Regions from separate parts of the Homo sapiens genome. Here regions 2 and 3 are each linked to region 1. The links come from fine-mapping of genetic effects on gene expression. A gene starts in region 1. Each other region holds a variant in brackets. All regions are shown on one strand. Distances are from middle to middle.

The links. PIP is the estimated chance that this variant, and not a neighbour inherited with it, causes the effect.
Region 2: its variant is the best candidate, but not a certain one, in a credible set for the expression of DRC8 in prefrontal cortex (GTEx, PIP 0.52).
Region 3: its variant is the best candidate, but not a certain one, in a credible set for the expression of DRC8 in whole blood (TOPMed, PIP 0.88).

Annotation. Positions count from the first base shown.
Region 1 is chr1:244,966,961-244,975,806 of GRCh38, reverse strand. DRC8 (dynein regulatory complex subunit 8) reads right to left here and starts at 6,125. Exons shown (of 8, transcript NM_032328.4): 1 at 5,764-6,125; 2 at 5,364-5,478. The coding sequence starts at 5,388. It overlaps LOC124900416, which reads left to right and starts at 5,237. Exons shown (of 4, transcript XM_054328428.1): 1 at 5,237-5,481; 2 at 5,483-5,552; 3 at 5,555-8,834. The coding sequence starts at 5,270. The coding sequence ends at 5,821. It overlaps EFCAB2-AS1 (EFCAB2 antisense RNA 1), which reads left to right and starts at 4,938. Exons shown (of 2, transcript NR_111907.1): 1 at 4,938-4,995; 2 at 5,828-8,846. RefSeq lists enhancers at 4,463-4,832, 7,271-7,775 and silencers at 5,003-5,092, 5,103-5,462, 5,473-5,652, 5,923-6,062.
Region 2 is chr1:245,134,488-245,145,637 of GRCh38, reverse strand. No RefSeq gene overlaps it. Among named protein-coding and RNA genes, the nearest start is that of KIF26B, 15 kb to the left of the region's middle. The variant C/G (reference allele first, on the strand shown) is at 6,082.
Region 3 is chr1:245,118,102-245,129,251 of GRCh38, reverse strand. LOC124904572 (a long non-coding RNA gene) reads right to left here and starts at 40. Exons shown (of 2, transcript XR_007066991.1): 1 at 1-40. It also overlaps a transcript of DRC8 not described here. The variant G/C (reference allele first, on the strand shown) is at 5,080.

The DNA.
Region 1 (8,846 bases):
CTCACTGCAACCTCCACCTCCTGGGTTCAAGCGATTCTCCTGCCTCAGCCTCCTGAGTAGTTGGGATTACAGGCACGCGCCACCACACTCAGCTAATTTTTTGTATTTTTAGTAGAGACAGGGTTTCACCATGTTGGCCAGGCTGGTTTTGAACTCCTGACCTCAAGTGATCCACCTGCCTGGGCCTCTCAAAGTGCTAGGATTACAGGCGTGAGCCGGCCTCAGCATTCCTTTGATGCCAGGCACTGTGGCAGGTGCTGGGGATGTAAAAATGAATAAGAAAACATTGTCCCCATTACAACATTATGAAATATTGGGGGTATAATTATCCCCACTTTACATCTGAGGAACTTGAAGCTACTTATGTTTAGCATCTCGGCTAAGATCAGATAATTAGAGCTTGGGGAAGACGGAATTCAAATTCAAGTCTTACTTCAAAGCTCAACCTTTGTACTGTCCCACAGGCTACACTCTATACTATCGACAGTTACTATGAGGCCAGGCAGGGTGGCTCATGCCTGTAATCTCAGCACTTTGGGAGGCCAAGGCAGGCAGATCACTTGAGCTCAAGAGTTCGAGCCAGGCGTGGTGGCTCACGCCTGTAATCCCAGCACTTTGGGAGGCCGAGGTGGGCGGATCACAAGGTCAGGAGATCGAGACCATCCTGGCTAATACGGTGAAACCCCATCACTACTAAAAATACAAAAAATTAGCCGGGCGTGGTGGCAGGCACCTGTAGTCCCAGCTACTCGGGAGGCTGAGGCAGGAGAATGGTGTGAACCTGGGAGGCAGAGCTTGCAGTGAGCCAAGATCGTGCCACTGCACTCCAGCCTGGGCGACAGAGCGAGACTCCATCTCAAAAAAAAAATAAAAATAAAAAAAATAAAGAGTTTGAGACCAGCGTAGCCAACACAGTGAAACCCTGTCTCTACAAATTAAAAAAATTAGTCGGGCATGGTGGCTTGCGCCTGTAGTCCCAGCTACTTGGGAGGCTGAGGTCGGGGGAATCGCTTGAGCCCAGGAGGTCGAGGCTGTAGTGAGCCGTGATGGCACCACTACATTCCAGCTTAGGCAACAGAGGTTGCACCACCACATTCCAGCCTGGGCAGCAGAGCAAGACCCTGTCTCAAAATAAAAGAAGAAAAAAAAAACAAAGACGTTATTTAAGGGAACCCTTTTTATAAAGTAATAGGCACCTGAAATTTCTGTTTTTTACTTTATATTTCCAAATGTTGGGTTTTCAAAAGAGTGGCACAATGAAGGAAATCAGAAACAAAACAACAAACCTTGTAAAACCTCTTCCATTTAGGAGGTGATAATTGAATTAGAGGCACTTTATCAAGCAATGTTATCAAAGCACGCAAAGTAACAAAGAATATTTTAATAGAAACAAAAATAGTAAATCCTAGAGTGAGCTTTTAATATCTGCAGCTTACTAAAAAGTTCTTACTTTCCAAAGCTCACTGGCTGCCAAAAGTTCAAATTTTATAACTAAGCAGTTTGTTTCCTAGACGTGAGTCTAATTACAAACAGAAGATCCTTCCAGTCCTATATAAAATTCTCTAAGAGACAGAAACAATAAGATTTAAGGAGCCAAAGAATCAACAATTGCATTGACTCTCCATTTAAACAGACAAAACAGAAGGAAAAGAAAGAACAAAACAAAAAATGTTCTGGCTGAGGAAACTTTGGAAAAATAATAAACCTTCAAAAATATTTTTTCTCATCCCGTTTCAAACATTCTTCTTTCAGTTAAAAAAGTGGTTTTAAAAATAATTTGGTTCTAAAGGTTAAACTTTTAGCTAATATAATTCTGTATAATTTTTAATCTATGAAAAAATAAATTATACTGTATGAAAGCAAAAAATGCTACAAATAAGTATAACAACTTCAACGTACATAATCTTAGAAAAAAATTTTATGAGCACAATAGCCCCTTCTAATTTAGGTAATTTTTCTTATCAATATTCTCAATACTTCTATCAAAGTTAATCTCTAAATATTGAAGAAGAGTGGATAGGATAGGTACCCTGAAACTTATTCCCCCTTTAGAACTTTTAGAAATCTCAATATTAAGGATGAACTATTTAAAACATATGTGTATTTCTACAATGAGGTTTTTTGTAGTTGTTTTTTAAAGACATGCTAGTGAATACCGTGGCACTGTGAAATAAAACGTTTTGTTGAGCCAGATGGAATAGAAGAATGTATCTTACCGGTAAAGCAGAGGGGAAAAGAGACCTAAAACGAGTTTTGTGTACTTTTAGGTATAGAATAAGTTTGGGGAAAATAGCTAGGAATGCTTTGGTTAAAATCTCATAAGCTGTCTTTGATTAATTCAAATGTTCTGAATTCAACAAATATTTATTGATTACCTACCACGTTCCAAGCACTCTGCACAACACTCAGTATTAACAGATCAGAAATGGTCCCAGATCTTTTGGAACTTAGAGGGTACTGAACACATCCTTCAAAATTATCCTTTCTTTTGTGTGATTCCACGGTCATCAAATGACTTCTGAAATACAAATTCACACTACCCGAAGCTTAGTACCCATAAAACAGTATATTATTATATTAGTATATTGCCAAAATTATTATATTAGTATATTGGCAAAATCAGCCTTCAAGTCAATGTATATACCCTTATTTAAATTAATAAATCATTCAGGTTTGCACATCAGTCTTTTATGAGTTTAGTTGAGTGAATCCTCAAAACTTAATCAATTCTGATTAATTGGTTAGACGTAATTTCTGAAAATTCAAAATACAGTAGCTGACAATCAAATATAGTAATAGACTATTTCCATAAAAAGATCTTACCACCAAAATGAGTCTCTACTTAGTTTATCCTCTAACAAAATGCCTTTATTTCATAATACCCTTCACAAACTGCAATTAGTTAATCCATAAAACTGTTAACAATAAATGAGATACAGCACATGAGTGCTTCTCGAACTTTGTTTTTTGTTTTTGTTTTTTTTTTTTTTTGAGACGGAGTCTTACTCTGTCGCCAGGCTGGAGTGCAGTGGTGTGATCTTGGCTCACTGCAGCCTCCGCCTCCCCGGTTCAAGCAATTCTCCTGTCTCAGCCTCCTGAGTAGCTGGGACTACAGGGCGTGCCACCACGCCCAGCTAATTTTTGTATTTTTAGTAGAGACGGGGTTCACCATGTTGGCCAGGATGGTCTCGATCTCTTGACCTCGTGATCCGCCCGCCTCAGCCTCCCAAAGTGCTGGGATTGCAGGCGTGAGCCACCGCGCCCGGCCTTCTCGAAAGTTAATGTACATACAAATCACCTACAAACATGTTAAAATGAAGACTGATTCATTATTAGGTCGGTGGCAGCCAGTGATGTCCAGGCTGCTGTCCACGGACTACAAGGATACACACCTAGCACAGTGGTTGGCACCCAGACTACTCAGCCCAGTTAACTATTTCCTCCCATTTGTAAATTTCTCATCTCCCTTACTCATCTCACCTTCCTTGGAAGCAAAGACAATGTCTTTCATTTTCGTATCTTTCAAAGTTCTAAGTAGAATGCCTTATCTACATAATGGCATTGAATATATGTATTCTGAATGAATGGCATCCAGCTTTTAACAGTCATTACTTCTATGAGTTATCGACAAAATTGTTTCTCTGAATTTACTTTAAATGGAAAAAAATTGTTCAAAAGCTGAAAAATCAGGAAAGCTCTCAGTTTTTAAAAAACGAGAAATACTGTATTTGTACCATACTCCAGTGCGTTTTTTCTCATGCTGACCTAACCAAGTCTTTTTTAAGAAAATAAATATCCATAATTACCTTGCTAGTTTATCTCCTAATGGCTTTTTTTTTTTTTTTTTTGGTAAAGAACAAAAATAAGCCATCCATTTTTCTGGGAAAGTTTTAAAATTATCCTTTTCTTTGTATGTAAGGGCATCTTCGTAAAGCTAATACCTACAAAATAATCCTGGCTTCTCAGATTAATATTACATAAAAATCACGGTATCCTTGTTATCAATAGAGAGATCGTTGGCAGTTTCATGTGTTTCTTCGCCGATTTTCTGTGATCACCGGAACAAGTGACTAAATATCTCAGGGTTCGTTTCTTCCCTTGTAAATATTAGCTGTTAACCTGACCACACTTGGTTCTATGCTGAGAAAAATGGTTTGAGAGGGTGTTTTGAGCACTCCAGAAAGAAAACAAAGGACGAATATTATTTTCACTTCCTACTTGTTTACCTTTACTGTTTCATGGCTTTTTGGATATTTTTGGGTGACTGCCAACTATCAAACACAATTATTTTTTAGTACCTAAGGGCATGGTAACAAAGGATCGGGTTTTAATCATACCATGAACTGAAAACAACATGAACGGTCTTGCAAATAAACGTAATCACTTTTTGGCTTCTCCGCACAGACAACACATCGATGCCTCCGAACTGGCGACCTTAAGCCTCGAAGCGCAGTCCCGCCTCTGCAGGCGGCCACCGCGCGGGGCTGGGTGGTCCCCTGGGAGAGGCCCGGCCGGCGCACAGCGGTTCCAAGATCTCAACCAGGTTTTGGTTTTTCGTCGTTATTAAAATTGCTGTTTGGGTGTGTGTCTTTTTTTTTTTTTAAGACAAGACACTAGGCCAATTGCGCGGCGCTAGCCGGCGGCGGGGCAGGCATTTCGGAGGACCGGGAAGCTCGGAGGCAGCGGCTGTGACCTCCAGACCGTCCTCCTGCGTCCTCATTAAGGAGGCAAAATGGTGGCCGCGAACGCCATCAGGCTGCGCCAGCGCGGGGTTTCGGCGCAAACAGAGGATCCCGTCAGATTCAGGCGGCCAGAACTCCTCCTCACCCAGGCCACCCCCCGGGGCCCACAGCCTGGACAGCTACGGGCGTGGCGCCTGCGGCACCGAGACCCCAGGCGAGAGTGTGGAGGCGGCGGCGGCTTCCCCGCGACCGTGAACAACGACGCCATTATCAGCACCCCCTGCCGGCGCCTCCGGCGCAGCCCGCGCAGGATGCAAGGCCCGGCCTCCGAGGGAGGGGGAAGGAGGACGGGGCGGGAGGAGGGGAAGAGGGTGAAGAGGGCGGGAGGAGAAAGAAGAAGGCGGGAGGAGGGGAGAGAGAAGAGGGAGGGAAGAGGGGAGAGAGGCGGGGCGGGGCGGGGGAGAGAGGCGGGGCGGGGCGGGGCGGAGCGGCGGGCCGGGCGGGCTACGGGGACGGGGGCAGGGCGACTGCTGCTGCCGGGTGGCCCCCTCCTCAGGCCGCCCTTTCCCTGCGGGTGGGAACTCCAGATGGACGAGGGCCCACCCCACCCGGCGCTTCCCCGTGCAGCCCGGGGTCGCGGCGGGCGGCGAGGGCAGCGGCTCCCCGGCTCCCCTACCTTACCTTCCCTGTCCTTCTCGTCCGCCATCTTGCTGCGGAGCCGGTCGCCTGGGAGATGCCTAACGATAACCTCGGCCGCGGTGTCCCGGCCTGCTCAGCGCCCCGCGGCGAGCCTGGCCTGGAGGAGGGGCCGCTCTGAATCCCGGGGGAGGAAGACCCTTGGGCGGGGCGGGGCGGGGAGGAGGCTCCGAGCGCGCGCCCTGTCCCCGTTTCGCGCCACGACCCTCGCGCTGGGGGAAGACCAGAGGCCCCGTCTGCCACCCGGCCCCCGGCCTTGTCCCTCCAGACCCGAGGCCGGAGCCGGACTTGTCCCGGGCCTAGCATGTTGCTTCATCACACGGTCCCCAACCCCTCCTTTCCCTTATTTCTCATCCATTTGGGGACAGCACGCGCGCGCACACACCCCTCGCCCCCTCCTGTCCTGTTTGTGCGACGTGGCGTTGCTCGATTTTTGTTGTTAACTGCAGATTTTGAAAAGCGCCGGAGAGCTAGGTGAAGAGCTGGGCTCCCAAGGGGGTGATAGAACCAGCCCGCGGCCCGGCCTCCTCCTCCCGCTTCCCATTCGCAGCCCGCCTCCCGCCGGGAAGCGGCCCGGCTGCTGCAGAACGGCCGCGCCTGCCCTCCCGGTTTCTCCCGTCCAGTCTTCACCGTCCTTTCCCAGAGAAAGCGACAGCACAGCCTATGACAACCGAAGCTAAAACGGAAAAACTGGGCCGGGCGCAAGAGGAAACCAGAGCCATTCGACTATTGCTAGAGGAGAGGAATAGCTGCAGGAAAACATGCGCAAAATAGCACAAACATTGCGTCGTCAAGGCTGCAATGTCTAATACAAAATAGAAGGTTCTCATAGCAACAAAAACGTGCCCATGTTGTGCTCAGTATTACATGCGTTAAAATGTTCTTAGTTGTGAAATTTGACATGACCGCTAGTTAAAGTTACAATGGAAGTTTTAAATCCCGCTTTCCGAAAACTTTGCAGCTATAGCATGAAGTTAAATTTTTGTCTTATTTTCTGGATAAGTTTACTATACTGGAACATAGTAAAGCTCTTTTTATAAAGAGCTTTGAATAAAATACCTAATGATGTGGTTGAAACGAACACCTATTTTCAAAACTAATCTTAAGTGGTATTTCAGTGCATATGTTATGTAAAAGCAATTTATAAACTAAATTTTAAGAGCCTTCAAAATACAAGGTACTCGTATTTAATGACTTAACAGTTTTAATGCTTTTATTGTTTCTATAATCTCTCAGGAAATCCTAAAACTGACTATATTTTTCTTTATTAAAATAACTTTTTCTGTAGAAGATACCCATTTGGCGCTGTGATCAGCATTCTACTTGAAATTGAATATAAACAACTGAATCATTACAAAATGGCTCATGTTAGAAGATACTTAAAACGAATACAATCTTGTACAGTAAATGTTTAACACCCCAAAATAACGAAAAGTAATTATTAGCATTCATTTATATCTAAATCTCAGTCAATATGATCTAAATATTTGTGTTTAAAGACTCCCCCTTTCCATATAGATAATGAAGGGCTTTGAAATAAGTGTAGGAAACCCTAAGTTTGGTCTCAGGCTTCCTATTCATTCACTATGCTTTTTCGTGTGCTGTTTACAGTTTCCTTTTTCTGGAATGCCTTTCCCTGCTTTTTTCCCCCGCCAACATTTCAGCTTCCCACAGACACACATTTGTGCCCTCCTGGTTGTCCTGCAGGATGACCTTTGTTTTTGTTTTTGTCTTTTGTTTTTCGAGACAGGGTCTCGCTCTGTCGTCCAGGATGGAGTGCAGTGGTGTGATCTCTGCTCACTGCAACTTCCGCCTCCCGGTCTCAAGTGACCCTCCCACCGCAACCTCCCAAGTAGCTGGGAGGAGCGGCGCGCGCCACCATGTCTGGCTAGTTTTTGTATTTTTTGTAGAGACAGAGTTTCCCCATGTTGCCCAGGCTGCTCTCAAACTCCTGAGCTCAAGCGATCTGCCGCCTGCCTGGCCCTCCCAAAGTTCTGGGATTACAGGTGTGAGCCACTGTGCCTGGCCAGGATGACCTTTTTGAAGTCACCTAGTCATTGAAGCTTTCCCTCTCAGCCTTTTCCTCTGTGGCCCCATGCTTATAGAGCCTCCCACATTGATTTGCAGTGCCTTCGTTCGTTCACTTTATTTCCACCTACCAAACAGTAAGATCTTGAAGACAGAAACGGCATTATTCGTTTATATATCCCCGGTATCTAGTACAATTTTTCTGTTTGCAATAATAAATGTCTTAAAACTTAAGAAAGGAGTAAGTCTTCTCAATGACTTTTTTTAAAAAAGACCCAGATTCAGCACTTATTGTATGTAAGACAGACCTTCCTTTTACATTACATTTTTCATCAGTAAAAGTACTGGGCCAGGCGCGGTGGCTCACGCATAATCTCAGCACTTTGGGAGGCTGAAGCGGGTGGATCACTTCAGGTCATGAGTTAAAGACCCACCTGGCCAACATGGTAAAACCCCATCTCTACTAAAAATAGAAAAATTAGCCGAATGTGGTGGCTCACGCCTGTAATCCCAGCTACTCGGGAGGCTGAGACAGAAGAATCGCTTGAACCCAGGAGGCAGAGGTTGCAGTGAGCCGAGATCCGCCACTGCACTCCAGCCCAGATGACAGAGCAAGACTCCATCCCCAAAAAAAGGTACTAGTATTTCATGTTAATAAAATGGAATTCTTATATAAACATATATAAATTAAAAATTATTTTAAGAGTTGAACAGATTTCTCTGCAAATCCCCCTATATTTTTATATTTTTTAAACTAACTGTATTCAGCAAAGCTTTTTATTATTTAATTTATTCCAAACCACATTAATCAGTATTTCTCTGAACTCCTACAGCACATTTAAAACAGTACTGTTTCTCTAGGTGTGGGTGAGTAAAAAAATATTTAATATATGTTAATTAACTTCCGCATCTCCTGACCCCACTAAGGTTTGAATAGGAGCCTCCCCCTTTATAAACCCTTTTTATATACCCACACTACCTAGCCTAATTGGGGCACATATTAGCTGCTTCATACATACTTTTCAACTGCCTAATTTGCTGATTAGGCATAAAAGTATATAATTCTGGAAAAGTCTCCACAAGGTGAAAATGATTATCCAAATAATAAAGGCCCACAATGCCAGTGAGTACATTATCTGCATTATGCTGATATTTGACTCCTTTCAACTCTCTTTGGTTGTAGAAACATGACCGATGATTATATTACACTTTTAACTCTTTAAATATTATTAGCTTGCTTTGGACTGTGGAAAACTAACTACAATCATTTTTATTCCTCAGAATATATTTTGCGGCCGGGCACGGTGGCTCATGCCTGTATACCCAGCACTTTGGGAGGCCGAGGTGGGCAGATCACGAGGCCAGGAGTTCGAGACCAACCTGGCCAATATGGTGTAACCCCGTCTCTACTAAAAGTACAAACATTAGGTGGGCATAGTG
Region 2 (11,150 bases), 170 kb before region 1:
GTAATATGGTGTGCTGTGTTGGAAAACAGTTTGGCAGTTTCTCAAAAAGTTAAACATAATATCACTGTACCGTCATCAACTTCATTCCTTAGTATCTATCCCAAGAGAAATAAAAGCATATGTTCACATTCACACAAAGACTTGCACACAAAAGTTCATAGTGGCATTATTTATAAATAGCCAAAAAGAGGTGAAATGTGCCTCAGCTGATGGATGGACAAAATGCGGTGTATCCAAAAATGGAGTATTACTGGGCAATAAAAAGGGATGAAATACTGATATACTGATAGACATCACAACACAAATGAATCTCAAAAGCATCATGCTAACTGAAAGAAACCAGACATGACAGATCACGTAGTGTGTGATTTCATCTATATGAAATGCTCAGAAGGCAAATCTGTAGATAGAAAGTAGCTTAGTGGTTGCCTGAAACTGGGGGTAGGAACAGGGATTAATTGTAAATGGGATCTTCATTGGGATGATGAAAATGTTCTGAAACTGATTTATGGTGATGGCTGCACCACTCAGTAAATTTACCAAAAAATATTGAACTGTGCACTTGAATAGGGTGGGTTTTATCATATGTAAAATATGTCAATAGTGCTGTTTTTAGAAAGTGATGGGAGAGGTAAAGGAGGGGATGGAAATTGGGGATCAATTTCAGAGCTGTTGGCACTCAATCGGCTAGGCTTGGAGACTAAACTGATGTGCAGAGATGGCAAGGATGATTTTCAGGCATATGAGCTGGGCAAGAGAGATGAAATACCATTTCCAACAACAAGAAAAGTGGGAGGAAGATGATGCATTTGATTTAGAAAAGATATGGCCACAATACACATATACACCATGGAATACTATGAAGCCATAAAAAAGAATGAGCTCATGTCCTTTGCAGGGACGTGGATGAAGCTGGAAGCCGTAATTCTCAGCAAACTAACACAGGAACAGAAAACCAAACACTGCATGTCCTCACTCGTAAGTGGGAGTTGAACAATGAGAACACATGGACCCAGGGAGGGGAACATCACACACCGGGGCCTGTCGAGGAGGGATAGCATTAGGTCAAATACCGAATGCATGTGGGGCTTAAAACCCAGATGACAGGTTGATGGGTGCAGCAAACCACCATGGCACATGTATACCTATGTAACAAACCCGCATGCTCTGCACATGTATCCCAGAACTGACATTAAAAAAGAGAAAAGATATGGCCACAATAATCCAGTTGTCTTTTCCCTCTGAAGCAAAAGTCCCAGAGAGAGAGTTAGCCTGTGTGCCCACTTCAGGAATCCCAGCATGTCCAGCTAGAGTCCCCATGGGGTCTAGCTTCATGTCGTCTTGGGAGAGGGGACCCCAGCACTGGGAAGATCATCAAAAGACACTGGCTGATTGCTGTTGGGAATAGAAGAGCCATTAAAGAAAATGAACTGAGAATGTGTGCTTAATTAAAAAAAAAAAAAAAAAGTTGTGATACTAAGAACTCTGTAAAGAACTGCCAGAACAAAGTTGCCGTGGCCAGGAGTAAGGCACGGGCTGTCTCCACCTAAGCCATACGAGCCGCAGCAGGTGCAGCAGCTTCAGCTGTGGGAGCGATGGCCACCAGAGTCAGCCGTAAGGGTGGTGGGCAGAGAAGCACACACAGCCCAGAGAAGGGCTTCAAAGACCGTGGTGGAGACACGGAAGCAACCTGAGGACCTGCTCAGGGAAGAGAGGGACTTGCTGGGGTGTGGGATTCCAGGATTCCTCCAATGAGGGCTTAGAATCAAGACCCATTTTTCTAAGCAGTGCTGTTGTTGCCCCCTGGCTTGACTGTCATCTCACAGCTGTGTGCTGCCTGAGGCTGGGCACCAGCACGGAATTGCTAAAGCCTCCACCATCACTGCTGCAAATGTTCCCTTTGCCACTTCCCCCTTCACCTCATCAGCTGCACAGAATCTGCCATCACGTCTCCATCCTCTCAATTCTAAAGGTTCACTAGAAAATCAACAGTTCTGATCTACTCACATGGGGCCCATTCAACTCATGAGTTGGAAATGCAGTGTATCTGGATGGAGGAACAGACAGGTGGATAGATGGGTGGGTGGACAGATGGGTGGGTGGACAGATGGATGGACAGGTGGATGAGTGAACAGACAGGTGGACAGAGTGGGTGGACAGATGGACGGATGGGTGGACGGGTGGACGGACAGACAGGTGGGCAGATGGGGGAGTGGACAGATGGACGGACAGGTGGATGGACAGACGGGTGGGTGGACAGATGGACGGACGTGTGGATGGACAGACAGGTGGACAAAGTGGGTGGACAAATGGACAGACGGGTAGATGGGTGGATGGACAGACAGGTGGACAGAGTGGATGGACAGATGGACGGACGGGTGGACAGGTGGACGGAGAGACAGGCAGACAGACAGGTGGGCAGATGGGTGGGTGGACAGATGGACGGACGGGTGGGTGGACAGACGGGTGGGTGGACAGATGGACGGGTGGACAGGTGGACAGACAGGTGGACAGATGGACAGATGGGTGGGCAGACAGACGGGTGGGTGGACAGACAGGTGGGTGGACAGATGGACGGATGGGTGGACGGGTGGATGGATAGATGGAAGACGTATGACCTTGGGTGAAGAGAGGGATCAGGTGAGAGTAACTGGTCAGTAGATGCTCCTAGGTGGGGACTGTAGCAGCTCACAGTTTCCTATGAAAAGGCTGAGATGGAGAGCAAGCTGTGACCCTTCCTGCTACTTTTCTAATTTTAAAAAAAATCACAAGATTTAAGTGTAAAGCTTCATTTAAAAACAACAGCATAGGTAAGTGTTGGGGAATTCAGGAGTTATGGTCTCCACAGCAACATTCACGTGGCCACCCAACTACTAGCAAATAAATGAAATTAAGCATTTCTATTGCCCTTCACATTCAGCCGTATGCTAAGCAGTCACTTTATTGGTTTATAATTCCTCACAGCCACCCGTGAGGGAGGCAGCCTCCTCGCTCCCACAGGAAGGATGAGGACACCAAGTCCCAGGAGAAGAATGATGCCCAGAGAATCCCGTCATGGGACGAGCCGGGACAAGCCGTGATGAGCCATGACAAGCCGTGACAAGCCATGACTAGCCATGACTAGCCGTGACTAGCCGTGACTAGCCACAAGGAGCCGTGATGAGCCGTGACTAGCCGTAACTAGCTGTGACTAGCCATGACCAGCTGTGACTAGCCCTGACTAGCTGTAACTAGCTGTGACTAGCCATGACCAGCTGTGACTAGCCATGACTAGCCATGACCAGCCGTGACTAGCTAGCCATGACCAGCCGTGACTAGCCGTGACTAGCCATAGCTAATCTGACTCTGTGTGTAACAGCAGGCTGCAGGGTGCAATGCCACTCACAAGGTTGCAGAGAGAGCCGAAGACAAATCATTATTAAATGCCTGCTGTGCACTAGGTCCTGCTAGTGAGTTCTTTTCAAGCTCCTCCCAATGAAGACTGCATCTCAGGCAACTAAAGAAGCAGTAATAAAAGCCAGGGGCCACAATGCTCTGAGTGGGCAAGAACAGGTGAAGAACAGGTGAGAGGAAACACCCCACAGCCCCAGTTTGGCTGTGCTCTCTTATGTCCAGCTTCACTGCTGCACACAACTGTGACCATGTCCTAAGAGAAAGAAGAAAAAAAACCCACTAATGGTTCATGAGAATGAGGAGCGAGGAAGATCCAGGTCCTAGAGAGAGGAGGCTGTCTTGCGTACTTGATCACCTTTGGACCGTTTCACTCATTCCACAGATGAAAAGTCCCCAAAAGAGGTGAGAGATGTTTACTTAGATAAAACTTTCACTGTAGCGAATCTTAGCAAATCTCAGCTCCCAGAAGAACACAGGTGCATGGATTGAAAACACAACCAAATGCTCTAGGCCACAAATTGTGACATGTGACCCACAGGCCCCAGGAAGGGAGGCCTGACACCAGCACTGGCTCTGGCCTTAGCTCTCATCTTAATGTTCTTTAAGGGGGAATAAAAAGCAACAGATAAAATGCAGGGATGAGCTAAATCGAGAGGTGTTGCCAACACACCTGCAGAAGGGAAAATAAAGTGTGAAAATATGGAGTCTCAAAAGTATGAGAAAATCAAAGGCATGAAGGCAAGCCAAAACATCAAACTTCCTACTCACGGAGACAATGACCCTGACTCTGCATGGTAGACATTTGGAAAGCAGTTCTTGGCTAGGTGCAGTGGATCACACCTGTAATCCCAACACTTCGGGAGGCTGACGCAGGAGGATTGCTTGCGGCCAGGAATTTGAGACCAGCCTGGGCAGCATCCTAAAACCACATTGCTATTTTTTTTTTTTTTTTGAGACAGTCTTGCTCTGTCACCCAGGCTGGATTGCAGTGGACCAATCTCAGCTCACTGCAACCTCCGCCTCCCGGGTTCAAGCGATTCTCTTGCCTCAGCCTCCCAAGTAGCCAGGACTACAGGCGCCCGCCACCATGCCCAGCTAATTTTTGTATTTTTAGTAGAGACGGGGTTTCACCGTGTTAGCCAGGATGGTCTTGATCTCCTGACCTCATGATCCACCCGCCTCGGCCTCCCAAAGTGCTGGGATTACAGGCGTGAGCCACTGCGCCCAGCCAATTTTTTTTTTTTTTCATTAGCCAGTTGTGGTGTACATCTATCATCCCAGCTACTCAGGAGGCTAAGGTGGGATGATCTCTTGAGCCCAGGAATTCGAGGCTGCAGTGAGCTATGATCATGCCGCTGCACTTCATCCTCATCGACATAGTGAGACTATCTCTTCAAAAAAAAAACAAAAAAAACAGCCATACAAAAGCATGAGATCATGTCCTTTGCAGTGACATGGATGGAGCTGGAGGCCATTATCCTAAGGAACTAACTCAGAGACAGAAAATCAAAACTGCGTGTTCTCACTTGTAAGTGGAGGCAAAACAGTGAGTCCACATGGACATGAAGATGGAAACAGTGGACACGTGGCCTCCAAAGTGGGTGGGCAGGGACTTGCAGGGAGCAAGGGTTGAAAATGTACCCATCAGGTATGATGTTCACTCTCTGGGTAATGTGTACACTAGAAGCCCAGTATACAATGTACCCACGTAACAAGCATGCCCATGTACCCCCTCAATTTGAAATAAAATAAAATTTTAATAAATAAATAAAGCAGTTCTCCCTAAAGACAGGCAAGAGATAATGGAATTAATGTAAACTTTAATTTACATTAATTAAATGTAGTTAATGTAAACTTTAATTTACATTAGTTATGTAAATGAATAATTTACATTAATGAAATTAATTATGTAATTAATTACATAATTAATGTTCAGAAATAATGTAAACTTTTGCTACATTAAGGGAGGCCTACTTCCTGCAGGAAGCGTCTCTCGATGAGTCCCACTGATCCATGACACTCTTCACAGTCCCTCTGGGACTGCAATCTGATCTTCCCTAATCACTAACAATATAGCTATGCACGTGCTATCCATTTGTGTTTTTATTTGCCCTCTTTTCTCTATTAAATTGATTACTCCTGAAGAGTTCTAAACCCACTGTGCAGAGCTAAGGTGCAAAATGATTGCTAATTACAGAGCTCTGACTCAAGATTTGAGACACCCATTTAAGGGTTCAAAAATCTGTGCATTATAACCATTCGACTCTAAGCTCCTTGAGGCTGGTAGCCAGGTCCTTAATCTTTGTGTCCCTAACACTCAGCACAGCACTGGGTGTGGCTCTGGTTACAGGTATATGGAGGAACTCAGTATGTATCATGAATCTAGTGCGTTGCTTTCATGTGAAATAGCTCAGTTGAAACTTTTTCTTTTTTTTTTTTTTTTGAGACAGAGTCTCCCTGTGTTGCCCAGGCTGGAGTGCAGTGGCGCAATCTCAGCTCACTGTAACCTCTGCCGCCCAGATTCAAGCAATTCTTCTGCCTCAGCCTCCCAAGTAGCTGGCGCTGCAGGCACCCACCACCATGCCTGGCTAATTTTTGTATTTTTAGTAGAGATGAGGTTTTGCCATCTTGGCCAGGCTGGTCTCAAACTCCTGACCTCACATGATCCATCCACCTCGGCTTCCCAAA[C/G]TGCTGAGATTACAGGCGTGAGCCACCGCACCCAGCCTGAAACTTAATCTAAAATATTGCATTCTGTTCTGAACATCTTATTGCCCGAAAGATAAATGTAGTGTATGATCACAGTAATTAAACAACTTAGAAGGGATGGCTTCAAAGTGAAGACTGAAGCAACTAGAATATGTATAAAATCTAAAAATAACTGGTAAAACAAGACTGTTTTCAGGAAGTCCATGTCTAGGGGTGAGAACAAAGAGAGAAACACACCTAGTTTAGGAGGTTTCAAAGGAGGGATGGATTTAAATTAAAATTAAGAAAGTGTAGGCAAGCTTTCAAGGTGAAAACAATGACCGTAAAATCTAGCAGACTGTGAAGTCATCTTCCTTAGTTACTGGAGGCCCATCACTGTTGAATTTTAAATGACACCTGGAAGATTCTCTAGTGCAATATTCACTTCTCTGCCAGCATAGAGCATTATGCTTTAGCAGTTTGGTTTTCAGAATAATTTATACTAAGTGATTAGGACTTCCCCCATATTCTTCTCTGGATAAAGTTAACATCGTTATTTCACTTAGAACTGTGAGAAGCCCCAAAATACAAAAAGCCTAAATGATATGCCAACACCACCAAAGAAGTTAGTGTGGCAGGGAAAGGGTTCGAATTCCAAGTTGCAAGCCACACTTCTCCCTACTTACCCCTCTCCGTGCCACAGTGAACAAGCGACTTTGCTGTTGCAGGATTCCCTGACCCAGAGCAACATACTTCTTGAGACCTACTCATGGCTTCTGTTTTGACCTCCCAAGTGCTACATTCAGGTCATCTTTATTTTTATGTTATTGACAAATTTACATAGACGTTTAAAGCCTTTCCTTCATGTATGCTCTTGTAGCTGAGATGCCCAGAACTGGTGTTTCCACCCCTTTATGGGGGAGGGGGAATGTAATCTAATGTTTAGAAGCTCAGGCTCCAAAGTCAGAAAGCCAGGGTTGAAAATGTGGCCCCACAGCTTTCTAGCTATGCAACCTTGGGCAAGATACTTAGCCTCCACTTTCTCTTTCCTCATCTATAAAATGAGGATGAAGACTGGGCACAGTGGCTCACTCCTGTAATCCCAGCACTTTAGGAGGCTGAGGCAGGTGGATCACCTGAGGTCAGGAGTTCCAGACCAGTCTGGCCAACACGACGAAACCTGATCTCTACTAAAAACACAAAAATTAACTGGGCGTGGTGGCGTGCACCTGTAGTCTCAGCTACTTGGGAGGCTGAGGCACGAGAATCGCTTGAACCCAGGAGGCAGAGGTTGCAGTGAGCTGAGATTGCACCACTGCATGCCAGCGTGGGTGACAGAGTGAGACTCTGTCTCAGAAAAAAAGAAATGAAATAAAATAAAATAAAATGAGGATGAATAATAATGCTTGCCTCATGAGGACTAAATTCGGTAATTTATATGAAAGGCTTAGAATAGTACTGGACACATAGTACAGCTCAATACACTTAAGCTATAATCATTACCTTTTGGTAATTTAAGGTAGACATTCCCTCCACATGTGGACTCTGAAATCTGACAGACCTCAATCCTTGAAATTCATCTGCATCATTGATCTCTTTCTTGGAGAGTCTCTTCCCACAAAAAGGATAACTTGGGGGGAAGCAAGAAGAGAACACAGGGTGGCATCTTCTGCCTCTGCTGGGTCGTCGGCTGGTTCTCCACTCTGGTGTGCCAGCTCTGTACTGGGGAGTAGAAAGCCTGGGGACTATATTTCCCAGTATACCAACTAGGAGCATTCCAACTTAGATTGGGCCGCTGAGAGGCACTCGAGTGAAATTTGGAAAATAGAAGAGAGGCAAGCCGGCTTGCTGCTCCCCCTTCAACAGGTGGCAAACACGGCAAGCATGAGTTTGCCTTGGCATTTGAGCATTTCCCCAGTGAATCCCACCTTGGTACTGCAGGCAAATGTGACCCTGGCAATGGTTTCTGCAGGTTCTGAAACTTGTTGTTTTTCCTGTAACTGGTGGTGGGCCTGAGGGCAATGAATGGCTTTCCTGAACCTTCGCACCTCTAGCCTTCCAGTGATTTTGAAGCTCTAATTCCTAGATCCCTAAATCTCTTCTTGCTTGAACAAAGAAGAACACTAGAGAAGTTACATTATGTGACTTCAAATTATACTACAGAGCTAAAGTAACCAAAACAGCATGTTACTGGCATTAAAAAGGACACATAGACCCCCGGAACAGAATAGAGAACCCAGAAGCAAATCCACACACCTAAAGTGAACTCATTTTTGACAAAGGTGCCAAGAACATACACTAGGGAAAAGACAGTCTCAATAGATGGTGCTGGGAAAACTGGATATCCATACACAGAAGAATGAAATTAGACCCCTATCTCTCAGCATACGCAAAATTCAAATCAAAATGGATTAGAGACTTAAATCTAAGACCTCAAACTGTTACAAGAAAGGAGTCTTGATCCAGACCCCAAGAGAGGGTTCTTGGATTTCGTGCAAGAAAGAATTCAGGGAGAGTCCAGAGAGTAAAGTGGAGGCAAGTTTATGAAGAAAGTGAAGAAATAAAAGAAAGGCTACTCCACACACAGAGCCCTTGGGGCTGCGGGTCGCCCATTTTTATGGTTATTTCTTGATGATATGCTAAACAAGGGGTGGATTATTCATGCCTCCCCTTTTTAGACCATATAGGGTAACTTCCCAACATTGCCGTGGCATTTGTAAGCTGTTACGGTGTTGGTGGGAGTGTAGCAGTGAGGATGACCAGAGGTCACTCTCGTCGCCATCTTGGTTTTGGTAGGATTTGGCCAGCTCCTTTACTGCAACCTGTTTTATCAGCAAGGTCTTTATGACCTGTATCTTGTGCTGACCTCCTATCTCATCCTGTGACTTAGAATGCCTTAACTGTCTGGGAATGCAGCCCAGTAGGTCTCAGCCTCGTGTTACCAAGATCCTATTCAAGATGGAGTTGCTCTGATTCAAACGCCTCTGACAAAACTGTGAAACTACTGCAAGAAAACATTGGGGAAAATCTCCAGGACATTGGTCTGGGCAAAAATTTCTTAAGCAATACTTTGCAAGCACAGGCAACCAAAACAAAAATGGACAAATGGGAACACATCAAGTAAAAAAGCTTCTGCATAGCAAAGGATGCAATCAACAAAGAGATGAGACAACCCACAGAATGGGAGAAAATATTTACAAACCACCCATCTGACACGGGATTAGTAACCAGAATATATAAGGAGCTCAAACAACTCTATAGGAAAAAGTCTAATAATCTGATCAAAAAATGAGCAAAAGATTTGAATAGCTATTTCTCAAAAGAAGACATAGAAATGGCAAACAGGCACATGAAAAGGTGCTCAACACCATGATCATTAGATAAAGCAAATCAAAACTGCAATGAGGGCCGGGCGTGGTGGCTCACGTCTGTAATCCCAGCACTTTGGGAGGCCGAGGCAGGTGGATTGCCTGAGCTCAGGAGTTCGAGACCAGCCTAGGTAACACGGTGAAACCCCGTCTCTACTAAAATACAAAAAATTAGCTGGGTGTGGCAGTATGCACCTGTAATCCCAGCCACTCAGGAAGCTGAGACAGGAGAATCACTTGAACCCAGAGGTGGAGGTTGCAATGAGCCAAGATTGCACCACTGCACTCCAGCCTGGGCAACAGAGCAAGACTCCGTCTCCAAAAAAAAAAACAAAAACAAAAACAAAAAAACTACGATGAGATATCATGCCAGCCCAGTTAAAATGGCTTACATCCAAAAGACAGGCAATAAGAAATGCTGGTGAGGATGCAGAGAAAAGGGGACCCTTGTGGGTGGGAATGTAAATTAGTAAACCACTGTAGAGAACAGTTTGGAGCTTCCTCAAAAAACTAACAATTGAGCTACCGTATGATCCAGCAATCTCATGGCTGGGTAGATACCCAAAAGAAAGGAACTCAGTATATTGAAGAGATGTCTGCACTGCTGCTTGTTACAGCACTATTTACAAGAGCCAAGATTTGGAAGTAACCTAAGTGTTCATGAACAGATGAGTGGATAAAGAAAATGTGGTAGATATGCACAATGGAGTACTATTCAGCCATAAAAAAGAATGGGATCCAGTCATTTGCAACAACATGAATGGAACTGGAGATCATTGTATTTAGTGAAATAAGCCAGGCACAGAAAAACAAACATCACATATTCTCACAATTAAAATAATAGGACTCATGGACATAGAGAGTAGGAGGATGGTGACCAGAGGCTGGGAAGGGGAGTAGGGGGGTGGGGATGGTAATGGGTAAAAAAAAAATAAAAAATAAAAAAAAGAATGAAAAAGGCCTACTATTTGATAGCACAACAGGGAGACTGTAGTCAATAATAACTGTACATTTTAAAATAACTTAAAGAGTGTAATTGGGTTGTTTGTAACTCAAAGGACAAATGCCTGAGGGGATGGACACCCCATTCTCCATGATGTGCTCCTTTCACATGGCGTGCCCGAACCAAACATCTCATGGACCCCACAAATACACACACATACGATGTACCCACAAAAATTCACAAGAAAGAAGAGAAAAATCTCTTCTTGCTTGAAATACCTAGAGCGGCCTCTGTCTTTCTGATCGATTTATTGCCTGAAGGAATGGAAGTCTCAATATACTCATTCAACAACTATATTGAGTGCCTAAAAGCAAGGCCCTGCTCTGGGTGTTAGGAATACAGCAGCCAACCAAACGGAAAGAGACCTGCCCTCCTGGAACTTACATTCTAGCGGAAATAAATAGGAATTGATAAGGGCAGGGCAGGTAGGACAGAGAGTGTGGGGTGGGGCAAGGGGCATCCTTATTTCCTAGGGTATTTGGGGAAGGTTCATTGCTAACAGGAGATCTGGGCTGGGACCTGCAGGAAGTGAGAGCCCTGGGCAGGAGGCTGTGTGGAAGGGCATTTAGAGCAGAGCGGATGCCGGCAACAAAGGCCCCGAGGCAGGAGCGCGCTCGGCGTGGTCTACGTGAGGAACAGCAAAGTCAACGGGCCTCTGCGGCTGCCAAGTCAGGGGAGAGCAGCACGAGGTGATGGCAGAG
Region 3 (11,150 bases), 150 kb before region 1:
ATCCCAGCACTTTGGGAGGCCGAGGCGGGAGAATCACTTGAGCCCAGGAGGTCGAGGCTGCGATGAGCTATGATCATGCCACTGCACTCCAGCCTGGGTGACAGAGTGAGGGCCCATCTCTACAAAAATTTAAAAATTAAAAAAAAAATCTTTATCAAAGAAATACATGTGCAAATAATATCAAAAGGCTTATTTTTTAAAATCCCCAGTCCTGGCTGCCCCTCCCCTCCACACCTGTCCTCCTCCCCTCTGAGGTGACCATTTTGAGGTTTTTGAGGTATTCACCTCTGCTTTTCTAAATGCGCTTGCTCTGCTGTTTCTTGATTTATCCATTTGAGACATCAGCTCTTTACTCTGTGCTGTGGTGCATGACAATTTAGCTCTTACCGTACTCACTGCTCGCTCCTCCTCTCAACAAGACATTAATAAAAATAGGAACGGGCTCTTATTTCTGGAGCGCTCACTAGGTATCAGGCACTGTTATATTCTGGCAGGGTGGCCCCCTTCCCTCCCTGATGCACTCTCCACGCGGCTCCCAGGACTCCCCACTCCCTCCCTCTGGTTCCTTCCACCGAGTCACCTTCTCGGATCCGTCCCTTCTCTGTACCCTCTGAAGGATGGGCACCCAGGGCTCGGTCCTCCGGCCCCTCTTCTCCATCTGCGCTCCCCGCCGCTCATTGGTGGTCTCACCAGTCTCGTGGTTCCGAAAATCTTCCCTGTGCTGATGCCTCCCAGAGCCCCATCTCCAGCCCTGTCCCCAGGCCCCTCAACACTGGCCCGATTTTGAGGCTGTGCCTCCAGAAGACAGAAGCAGCGTGGAGTCATGCAGTCAGGATGGGGCTGGCAGATGGAAGTCCTCGTCTAGAACTGGCCCTACCACCTCCCAGGAGTGTGGCCTCTGGTGACAGACTTCACTTCTCCACCATAAATGTTATTGCTTTCTCTGTACAAATGCTCTTTCTTACCCTGTGGATTGACTATAAGAATCAAGTCATGGCGAGGGTTTTGGAAGTGGAAAAGCCTTACGTTAGTGGAATTGGTTATTATTTCTCTTTTTTATTTTTTATTTTATTTTCAAGATGTGGTCTTGCTCTTTAGCCCAAAGCTGGAGTGCAGTGGTGCGATCATAGCTCACTGCAGCCTCGAACTCCTGGGCTCAAGTGATCCTCCCACCTCATCCTCCCAAGTACAGGCTACAGGTGTGTCACTACCCTGGCTAATTTTTTTTTTTTTTTTTGACTTTTTGGTAGAGACAAGGTCTTGCTTTGTTACCCAGGCTGGTCTCAAACTCCTGGCCTCAATGATCTTTTCACCTCAGCCTCCCAAAGTGCTGGGATTACAGGCATGAGCCACTGTGCCCAGGCTGTTATTTCTGCTTGTACTCCTCCACACTTCCTTTTCTCTCTCTTAATCTTTCCCATTCTGTCCTTTGTGATCAGCATTTATTTCACAGCCATTTATTGAGCAGCTAGTATGTGGCAGGCACCGTGGGAGCCACACACAGGGCTCTTGCTTGCACGGGGGTCACAGCCTCACTTTCAAAAGGCCTGGGTGCGCCTTGGTCTTTGTTTTCCTCTCCATTTTCTTTTTCTTTTCTTTTTTTTTTTTTTTCCTAGATGGAGGTATGCTCTTGTTGCCCAGGCTGGAGTGCAGTGGAGTGATCTCGGCTCACTGCAACTTCTGCCTCCTGGGTTCAAGCGATTCTCCTGCCTCAGCCTTCTGAGTAGCTGGGATTACTGGCACCTGCCACCATGCCCAGCTAAATATTGTATTTTTAGTAGAGATGGGGTTTCAACATGTTGGCCAGGCTGGTCTCGAACTCTGGACCTCAGGTGATCTGCCCGCCTCGGCCTCCCAAAGTGCTGTGCTTACAGGCGTGAGCCACCGTGCCTAGCCTTCCTTCCATTTTCTTTCCCTGTCACTCTCATCCTACCTTAACCCTCAATGATTCTGTTCTTTAATAGGTCTAATTTCATAAATGAAACAGATGCTTTACTCATTATATTATTGTTGAAATCCATGTTCCTTTTTAAAAACACGAGTGAATACTGCTTCTTTAAAAAAACAAAAAACTTCCCTAGAGTAAGTTTCTTTTTACTGAAGGGTCTCATATTTATCTTTTTTTTTTTTCTAGAATCATTGACCCTTTCCAGAAATAAGCTCCTTGACAAGTTTGTTTTCACAAATGCAGGCAGATATAAATATGCCGTCATATTTGTGCAATTTACAAAGTTGTACAATCCTCAAAGTAGTTGATCCTCACTTTCATCTCTTCCTAAACAAAATTGCAATCCAGAAAATAAAAATATCCCTTAGAAAACCTCCACACCTGTCTGAAGAACTTGTGGTGATAATGATCTCCGTGGAGTTGGATGAGCCTCTGAGTCTGACAAGTGTCTTCTAATCTGAAGTTTTGCACCCCTGGTATTTGTGACTATGACCCGTAATCTTCTTTTCACAGTATTAAGTGTGTCGTAGAGCCAGAGTCTGGTTGGCTGAGGGCCTGTTTCTCAAATCTGCGTGGTCATGTCAGAGGCATTTGAATCAGAGTGATGAGGGGCTGAGTAAAATGAGGCTGAGATCTGCTGGGCTGCGTCCCCAGCCTGTTAGGCATTCTAAGTCACAGGATGAGACAGGAGGTCACCACAAGATACAGGTCATAAAGACCTTACTGATAAAACAGGTTGCAGTAGAGAAGTGGCCAAAACCCACCAAACCCAAAATGGTGATGAGAGTGGCCTCTGGTCGACCTCACTGCTCATTATATGCTAATTATAATGCATTAGCATGCTAAGAGACACTCCCACCTGCGCCATGACAGTTTACAAATGCCAGGGCAATGTCAAGAAGTTATCCTACACGGTCTAAAAGGGGGAGGAACCCTCCGTTCCAGGAATTGCCCACCCCTTTCCCTCATGAATAATCCAGCCCTTGTTTAGCATATAATCAAGAAATAATCATAAAAATGGGCAACCGGCCCGGCGTGGTGACTCACGCCTGTAATCCCAGCACTTTGGGAGGCCGAGGCGGGTGGATCACGAGTCACGCCTGTCATCCCAGCACTTTGGGAGGCCGAGGCGGGTGGATCACGAGGTCAGGAGATCGAGACCATCCTGGCTAACATGTGAAACCTCATCTCTACTAAAAATACAAAAAATTAGCCGGGCATGGTGGCGGGCGCCTGTAGTCCCAGCTACTCGGGAGGCTGAGGCAGGAGAATGGCGTGAACCCGGGAGGCGGAGCTTGCAGTGAGCCGAGATTGTGCCACCGCACTCCAGCCTGGGCGACAGAGCCAGACTCCATCTCAAAGAAAAAAAAAAAAAAATGGGCAACCAGCAGCCCTCGGAGCTGCTCTGCCTATGGAGTAGCCATTCTTTACTCCTTTGTTTTCTTAACAAACTTGCTTTCACTTCACTCTATGGACTCCCCCTGAATTCTTTCTTGGGCGATATCCAAGAACCCTCTCTCGGCGTCTGGATCGAGACTTCTTTCTGATAACAGTCCTACTATCTGTGGAAGCCCTAGGGTCCTGAGGAACTTGTGAGGACAATCTGGCTTCCTGGGAAAACCCTCAGCCCCAGCCACTAACAGGGCAGGACATATGGGGAGGAAAGAGCCTTGATATCATCCCATATGTTGAAAAACAATTGCTATTCCAACTACAGTTGCTTCTGCCTTCTAAGGCAGGTGTCATGATTCATGTGATGTGAAGATCAAGTCCTTGCCTTCCCTTTGGCTTAAAAAGATTGCTGATGGAAAACTGAGAGAATTTGATTGAGTTGAGGCATAGGATAACCACCAAGTTTGTGCAGGTGCTTGCAGCCCTAAGGGGAGAGGTGCAGAATGGGTGGTCCCTTGCTAAGCAGAGGCTTTGGAAATGCCGCAGCAGGAGGTGGGAGAGTGGAATTGCTCTAGGAGGTGAGACAAGGAGCTGACATTGAGCCAGAGAGGGAGAGCCAAAACCTGGGGGAAGGCTGGGCTACAAAGAAAGGACAGAGCCAGGGAGAAATTTCCCACAGCAGTAATGGTGAAAAACACTTTTTTAAATGGGCGAATATCATGGATGCTCGTAGCAACATTTTCGTAATAGCCAAAAAGTGAAAACAGCACAAATGCTCATCAGCTGATGAAGGGATAAGCAAACATGGCATCTCCAAACAGTGGAACGAAGTGGTGTGATCCTGAGTGGGGTCTGTGAAGCACAGCAGGCTTGGCCAGCCACGGTAACCACGATGGGTCCATCGCTGGATGGGACCAGAAAGTGAATACGCCGAGGCATAGGGTTGTAGCAGAGAAAGAGGTTTCATCGTAGGGCCACCGAAGGAGGAAATGGGAGGAAACGTCAAATCCATCTCCCTGAGGAGTTTGGGGCTGGGGTTTTTAAGGGTTTGGGAGTGGAGACTGGAGTGTGGAGATGGTTGATTGGTCGAAGTGTGCAGGGTGGAGTCATGGGAGAGGGAGACGAAGCTGTATTTTCATGCTGATCACATTCCTCTGTGGGGGTCTTCAAACTGGTTGGTGTCGGCTGTTTTGCTGGAATTCAGGATCTGAAAAACATCTTAAGCAAGTCTTAAACAAAAATCTTATGATTCTAATGTCAGAGATCCCATCTATTTTAAACAAAAGCCTTGTGATTCTAAGGTCAGAAATTGTATCTATAGGAACAACGGGGATGCAAATGTTACCTAGTGCTACGTCACTGTTGGTTACAAGGAAGTGGGTCAAAGTGCAGGCTGACTGATGCTTACTTACAACTATATTTCTGTCCAGAATTCTTCTTAATCCTGTGAGGATGGCTCACCATATCGTGCTCAATCATGGTGCCAAAATGCCTGTCCTGGGGCTGGACACCTAGAATTCCCCTCCAGGCCAAGTGACGGAGTCTGTGAAGCTTGAGAACGTTGCCACTGTCAGCAAGCTGCGGTGCTCATACCATGAGAAGAGCCTGATAAAGGAGCCTGTCAGAAGACCCTCAGGGGACCACCTGGATTCCTACCTTATTCACTGGCCAACAGGCTATTTTTCCTGTTGGATGGGACAGACAACGTGGTACCTAGTGACACCAACTTCATGTCACAT[G/C]GGTGGCCACATGGAGGAGCTGGTGGATGAAGGGCTCTGAAAGCTTTTGGAATCTCCAACTGCAGCCATCTCCAAGAGATGGTAAAGAAACCTGGCTTAAGACCAGGTGTGGTGTCTCAGCCTGTAATCCCAGCACTTTGGGAGGCCAAGGCGGGAGGATCACTTGAGCCCAGGAACTCGAGGCTGCAGTGAGTTATGATCATGCCACTACACTCCAGGCCTGAGTGATAGAGTGAGACCCTGTCTCTAAATATATATATATATATATGACAGACAGAAAAAAAGAAACCTGGCTTAAAAACAGTGGTTAACCACAGTGAGTGCCACCTGCACCCACCTCAGGAGAAGTTAATCCAGGGCTGCCAATCCAAAGGCAAGGTGGTGACTGCCTGTAGTCCCCTCAGCTCTCGTGACAGGTCTGGGGGATCCCAGCACCAAAGCAATCACAGCCAAGCACAGTAAAAAAAATAAACAAATAAAAACGCAGCCCAGGTTCTGATCTGGTTTCCCATGCATAGGAATTTGGTGGTAATTCCTATCATCATTTCGGTGGTGATGCTGGAACGCACTGCTGAAAACTTGGAGGACTTCGACTTTCAACTGAGCAGCCTGATGTGACCACTGTAGTCAGCTACAACAGGAACGGGAGGGTCTGTGTCTTGGTGAGCTGTGCCTCCTGCAAGGATTACCCCTTCAACACTGAGCTTTAAAGCTATAGGTACCTGCTCTTCCCCCAGTGCCTTGCACCTCTTTTTCCTGCCTCAGTTTTTCTAGCAAGTGTAGTATGGCCTGTGTCCCTTAACGGCGGGTCAGCAACCTGCAGACTGGCCAGCACGGGTGTGGTCAGGTTGATGCTGTGTCCAAAGAGCAGTTTGTGTAGACGAGACGTCTCTTCCAGTTTTCTTTGCCCTTTTTCTTGTCCGGCTGGGAGAAGTACATCCTGAATACCCTTTTCCAGCCAAAATGAAGCAAAACCTACGGTCCAAATAGTGCCACTTGGAGTTGCGTTTTGACTGCTGGAACTGTAATCCCTGTAGCCAGTCTCCTTGCCTCAAATAAAAAGTGAGGCTTTTTATTTGTGAGCTTAACAAAAAAGAATGAACTAAGGATATACATTACAACATGGATGAACCTCAAAAGCCTTACACTAAATGAAAGAAGCCAGACACAGAAGGCCACATATTGTATGATTGTGTTTATGTGAAATGCCCTGAAGAGGCAAATCCACAGACACACAGGAAGATTAGCGGTTGCCCGAGGATGACGGTGGGGGAAGGGGAACTGCTATTGGACATGGGGATTCTTTTTAAGATGATGGAAATGCTTTGTAAGTAGATAGGAGTGATAGTTGCACAGCACTGTGAAGATACTAGAATCCATTGAATTGCACACTTGAATGGGGTGAATGTTGGCTGGGCACAGTGGCTCACATCTGTAATCCTAACACTTTGGGAGGCTGAGGTGGCAGGATCGCTTGAACCCAGGAGTTTGAGACCAGCCTAAGCAACATAGCCAGACCCTGTCTCTACAAAAAATAAAAAAAAACATTAGCTGGGCGTGGTGGCATGCACCTGTGGTCCCAGCTACTCAGGAGGCTGAGGCGCGAGGACCCCTTGAGTCCAGGAGGTCGATGCTACAGTGAGCTGTGATCATGCCACCTGCATTCCAGCTGGGGTGACAGTGAAACCCTGTCTCCAGAAAAAAAGTGGGGAGGGGATGGTGAGTGTTGAGGTATGTGAATGACTATTATATAAGCTGTTGTTTGTAAATGGGCTAATATTAAAATTTAAACTGTGTGCTGTCACTTGCTACTAAGTCACTCTGCCTCGTTTCTTCACCCTTCGTTCAAGGTGTACCACATTCAACGCCATGCTTCTGGGTACTTCTAAGCAAATGTTTGGATGAATATGGAGAGAAGAGAACAGCTAGACAAAGCAAGATACAGAGAGGAGATCAAGAGTTAAGGAAGCAGCCGGGTGCGGTGGCTCATGCCTGTAATCCCAGAACTTTGGGAGGCTGAGGCGGGAGGATCACTTGAGGTCAGGAGTTCGAGACCAGGAGGTCACCAGACCATGGTGAAACCCCGTCTCTACTAAAAATACAGAAATTAGCCAGGCGTGGTGGTGTGTGCCTGTCATCCCAGCTGCTCAGGAGGCTGAGGCAGGAGAATCTCTTGAACCCGGGAGGTGGAGGTTGCAACGAGCCAAGATCACGCCACTGCACTTCAGCCTGGGCGACGGAGCGAAACTCCATCTAAAATAAAATAAAATAAAATAAGAAAAAAGAAAAGAAAAATAATTAAGAAAGCAAAAAAGTAGATGAAGAAGTAGCTAAGACAAGCCTAAGGCCTGTGAGGCTGCTGAGGGAATTTTCAGTAGAGGAGCCAGACGGAGGGGTTGATGCTTTGCCTCCTGCTGGAGGCACTGGGACTGCGGGAGATATTTGCTGACGCTGGACAGCCCTCGTTTTGGTTCAGATCCGTACCTCTCCCCCACGCAGCACATACACTTTAGGGAAGGCCAGCCCGGCCTTTGGTAGTAGAGGTGCAGCACTGTCTCAGGCCTAAGCTAGGCAGTGATGGTTCCAACAGGGACTTGGCTGATCAAGTCAGAATAAAGTTCAAGACTGTTTCATGGCTAGGGATAGAGGTATTGTTTCCTGGTGATCTGTCTCTGCAAGGGAAAGACCATGGGCTGTCTCTGCCATCTTGAGGATATGAGGAAGGGGGCTGCCTGAAAATGAAGCCAACCCAAAGAAACAGATGCAAGAATTGGATTCTGATCATGGCATCTGAGCCCTGGATCAAGCTGCATCTGAAGCTATGTCTGCTTTTGGACTCTTCCGTTACATATAAGCCAGTTAATTCCTTTTATGGGTTGAGCTTTCTGTTACTTGGAACAGCAACGATCACATCTATGGTCAAATGATAATTTTGTAAAATACAAAGACTGCAAATACACCTCCGTATTTCCCTATTATATCACTTATTTCTTTGTTACAGGTTTATAAAAAGGGGCATAAAACTTCCTGAAAATTCTGCCTACATAACATTTGTATGAGTTTCATAATTAATAAAAATATACAAAGGTTTCAAAACTAAAGAAACTTAAGAAAAATGTAGTTGACCAAATTAATTTTGAACTGTATTTGCCCTAAATATTTTAAAAGTAGAAGTCTATGCTTGACAAACCCAGATGAACCTGGCTTAACACCATTCCTGTCAACACCTCCACTGTCCGGTCTTTGTAAAAGGCCAGGTGTCATATTGTTTGAGGCTTTAGCGGCCTGCAAGGCAAAGTGGGCCAAACCTAACATTGCTTTTAACTGGTAATCTGCCCAAATTGCATTATTCCACGTTATTCATGTATCACCCCCGAGGTGCCTTCCCATTGAAGAAATTAGCTCAGAAGCTCTTCATTTAAGGTGCGAAGTGACAGGTGTCTCTGTATCTAAAATGGAAATTATAGCAATTGCTGAAAATGTTGCAATCACTGCTTGGGTATACAAGAGACACACCCAAAATAAAATGTTTGAAAAATGCTGAAAATAAAAGGATAAGCAAAAGTCTACCAGGCAAAAGAAAATGAGGAAAAGGCTGAAGTCTAGTTCTACATGAACCAGAACAGCCACTGCAATTTAAACTCGAATTTCTGTTCTGAACAGCATTTTTGTCAGGAAAAAAATACAAATAATAAACAAATAAATCAGAGTTTCTGAAAGATGGAAAACTGCTTCCATATTCTTGAGAAGGGAACTGGTTAAATAAAATATGGCACATTCACGCAATAGAATACTACACAGACATTGAGATCGATGAGGTGGGTATTTATACAATTAGGAACTGAGCGTATGGGACCTGTTGCTTAGTGAGAAAAGTGTGATGTGTAGAGATGCGTGAAGGGCGCATAAGGATGCTACCTGCCTGTTCACACAAGGATTCCCTGGAATCGGTGCACTCAGGGGAGAGGGATCCGAGTGGTTTTGGGACACATTTATAAAAAAAAATTAGTTTTTACTCTATGAGCCTTCATACCTTTTGAATTTTGTACCACATATATTTTATTCATTCAAAAAAATAAATTAGGTCAGTTTCTTTTTTTACATCTTTCAGATTATGGTCATCCATCTTATTTTAACTAAATGGCCAACAGCCTCTATCTGATGCCCCAGCATTATCCACTGGGTTCAGTTCCTTGCTCTTTTATTTATTTACTTATTTACTTATTTTTTATTTTTTTTTGAGACGGGGTCTCGCTCTGTTGCCCAGGCTGGAGTGCAGTTGCATGATCTAGGCTCACTGCAAGCTCCACCTCCTGGGTTCACGCCATTCTCCTGCCTCAGCCTCCCGAGTAGCTGGGACTACAGGCACCTGCCACCACGTGTGGCTAATTCGTTCTATTTTTAGTAGAGACGGGGCTTCACCATGTTAGCCAGGATGGTCTTGATCTCCTGACCTTGTGATCCGCATGCCTCGGCCTCCCAAAGTGTTGGGATTACAGGCGTGAGCCACCGTGCCCAGCCTCCTTTTTTTTTTTAGACAGGGTCTTGCTCTGTTGCCCAGGCTGGAGCACAGTGGCGTGATCATGGCTCACTTCAGCCTCCTGCCTTAGCCTCCCATGTAGCTGGGACTACAGGCATGCATCACCATGCCCAGTTACTTTTAAATTTTTTTTGTAGAGACAGGGCCTCGCTTTGTTGCCGAGACTGGTCTCCAACTCCTGGCCTCCTGCCTCGGCCTCCCAAAATGCTGAGATTACAGGCATGAGCCACTGTGCCAGGCTCAGTTCTTTACCCTTAATGGTTACTTTTAGTATGAAAAAAAAAAAAACTCTCCAATTTCTTGTATATTGCTCTTTGATGAAAGAATTTGGGGTTAACCAACCCTTAATGTTGCATTTCACTTCATATTCGCACTTCATTATTATTTTGACCACTAGAAGTGAGAAATTATTTTACTGAAAATCATGAATATGCCTTGGTCAAGAGTTCACACTCTTTTTTTCTGTTTAATTAGAAGTACTTGCTTGAATAAACTGTAAACTTACCCATGATTTCCACTTGTGTTATTAATGGTTCTAGCAAACTGGAATTTTCCCACCCTCGCATAACAGCCAGAGGCATGGGTTGGGCTCCGCCAGCATCTCATACCACCAGCAACCAGACAATGCCCAATTCCCTACAGCCTTGGCCCTGCCCCATCATCAAGAATGAGTCAATCCCTCCCCTCTCCCTAGCTGAGGAGCTCATCAGCTGTCCCATGCAAGTAAAGTTCTCTCCTTATATAATGTCTTCTGGAAATCAAAGCATTTCATCAACTGTTGTTATCATTATTTTTTTCTTTTCTTTTCTTTTCTTTTCTTTTCTTTTCTTTTCTTTTTTTGAGATGGCGTTTTGCTCTTGTTGCCCAGGCTGGAGTGCAGTGGTGCGATCTTGGCTTACCACAACCTCCGCCTCCTGGGGCTCAAGCGATTCTCCTGCCTCAGCCTCCTGAGTAGCTGGGATTACAGGCATGCACCACCACGCCAGGCTAATTTTGTATTTTTAGTAGAGACGGGGTTTCTCCCTGTTGGTCAGGCTGATCTCGTACTCCCGACCTTAGGCAGTCTGCCTGCCTCAGCCTCCCAAAGTGCTGGGATTACAGGCGTGAGCCACTGCGCCCGGCTTACTGTCATTGTTTTACAGCACGTAGTATCTTCCCGATAAAGGTTTCTCACTCGTTTTTAAAATGCTCCACAAGGTGACACATGGTGTTCTCCCAGTTCTCCGAAGAAAGCTGCAGGGGCAAACTTCGAGGGCCTTCAGGAAGCCACAACCTCACCTGGCTCCCTCCCCAGCCAAGCCCAGCGCACCTGTCCCTGTGTTGTTCTTGGCTACTCTTCTGTCCTTCAAGATTTACTGATGGTGTAATGGAAGAGACTAGGCTGCGATTTCAATCTCAAAATGCACCCTAGGGCCAGGGTTTGCTCTAATTCTCCCTCATCTATTTCTCATGGCAGATCTTAAATATTTTTGACACTAGGGTCTTTCAGTTCTCGGTCTAAGTGTGCAGGAAGTCAGACAGGGCAGGCCCA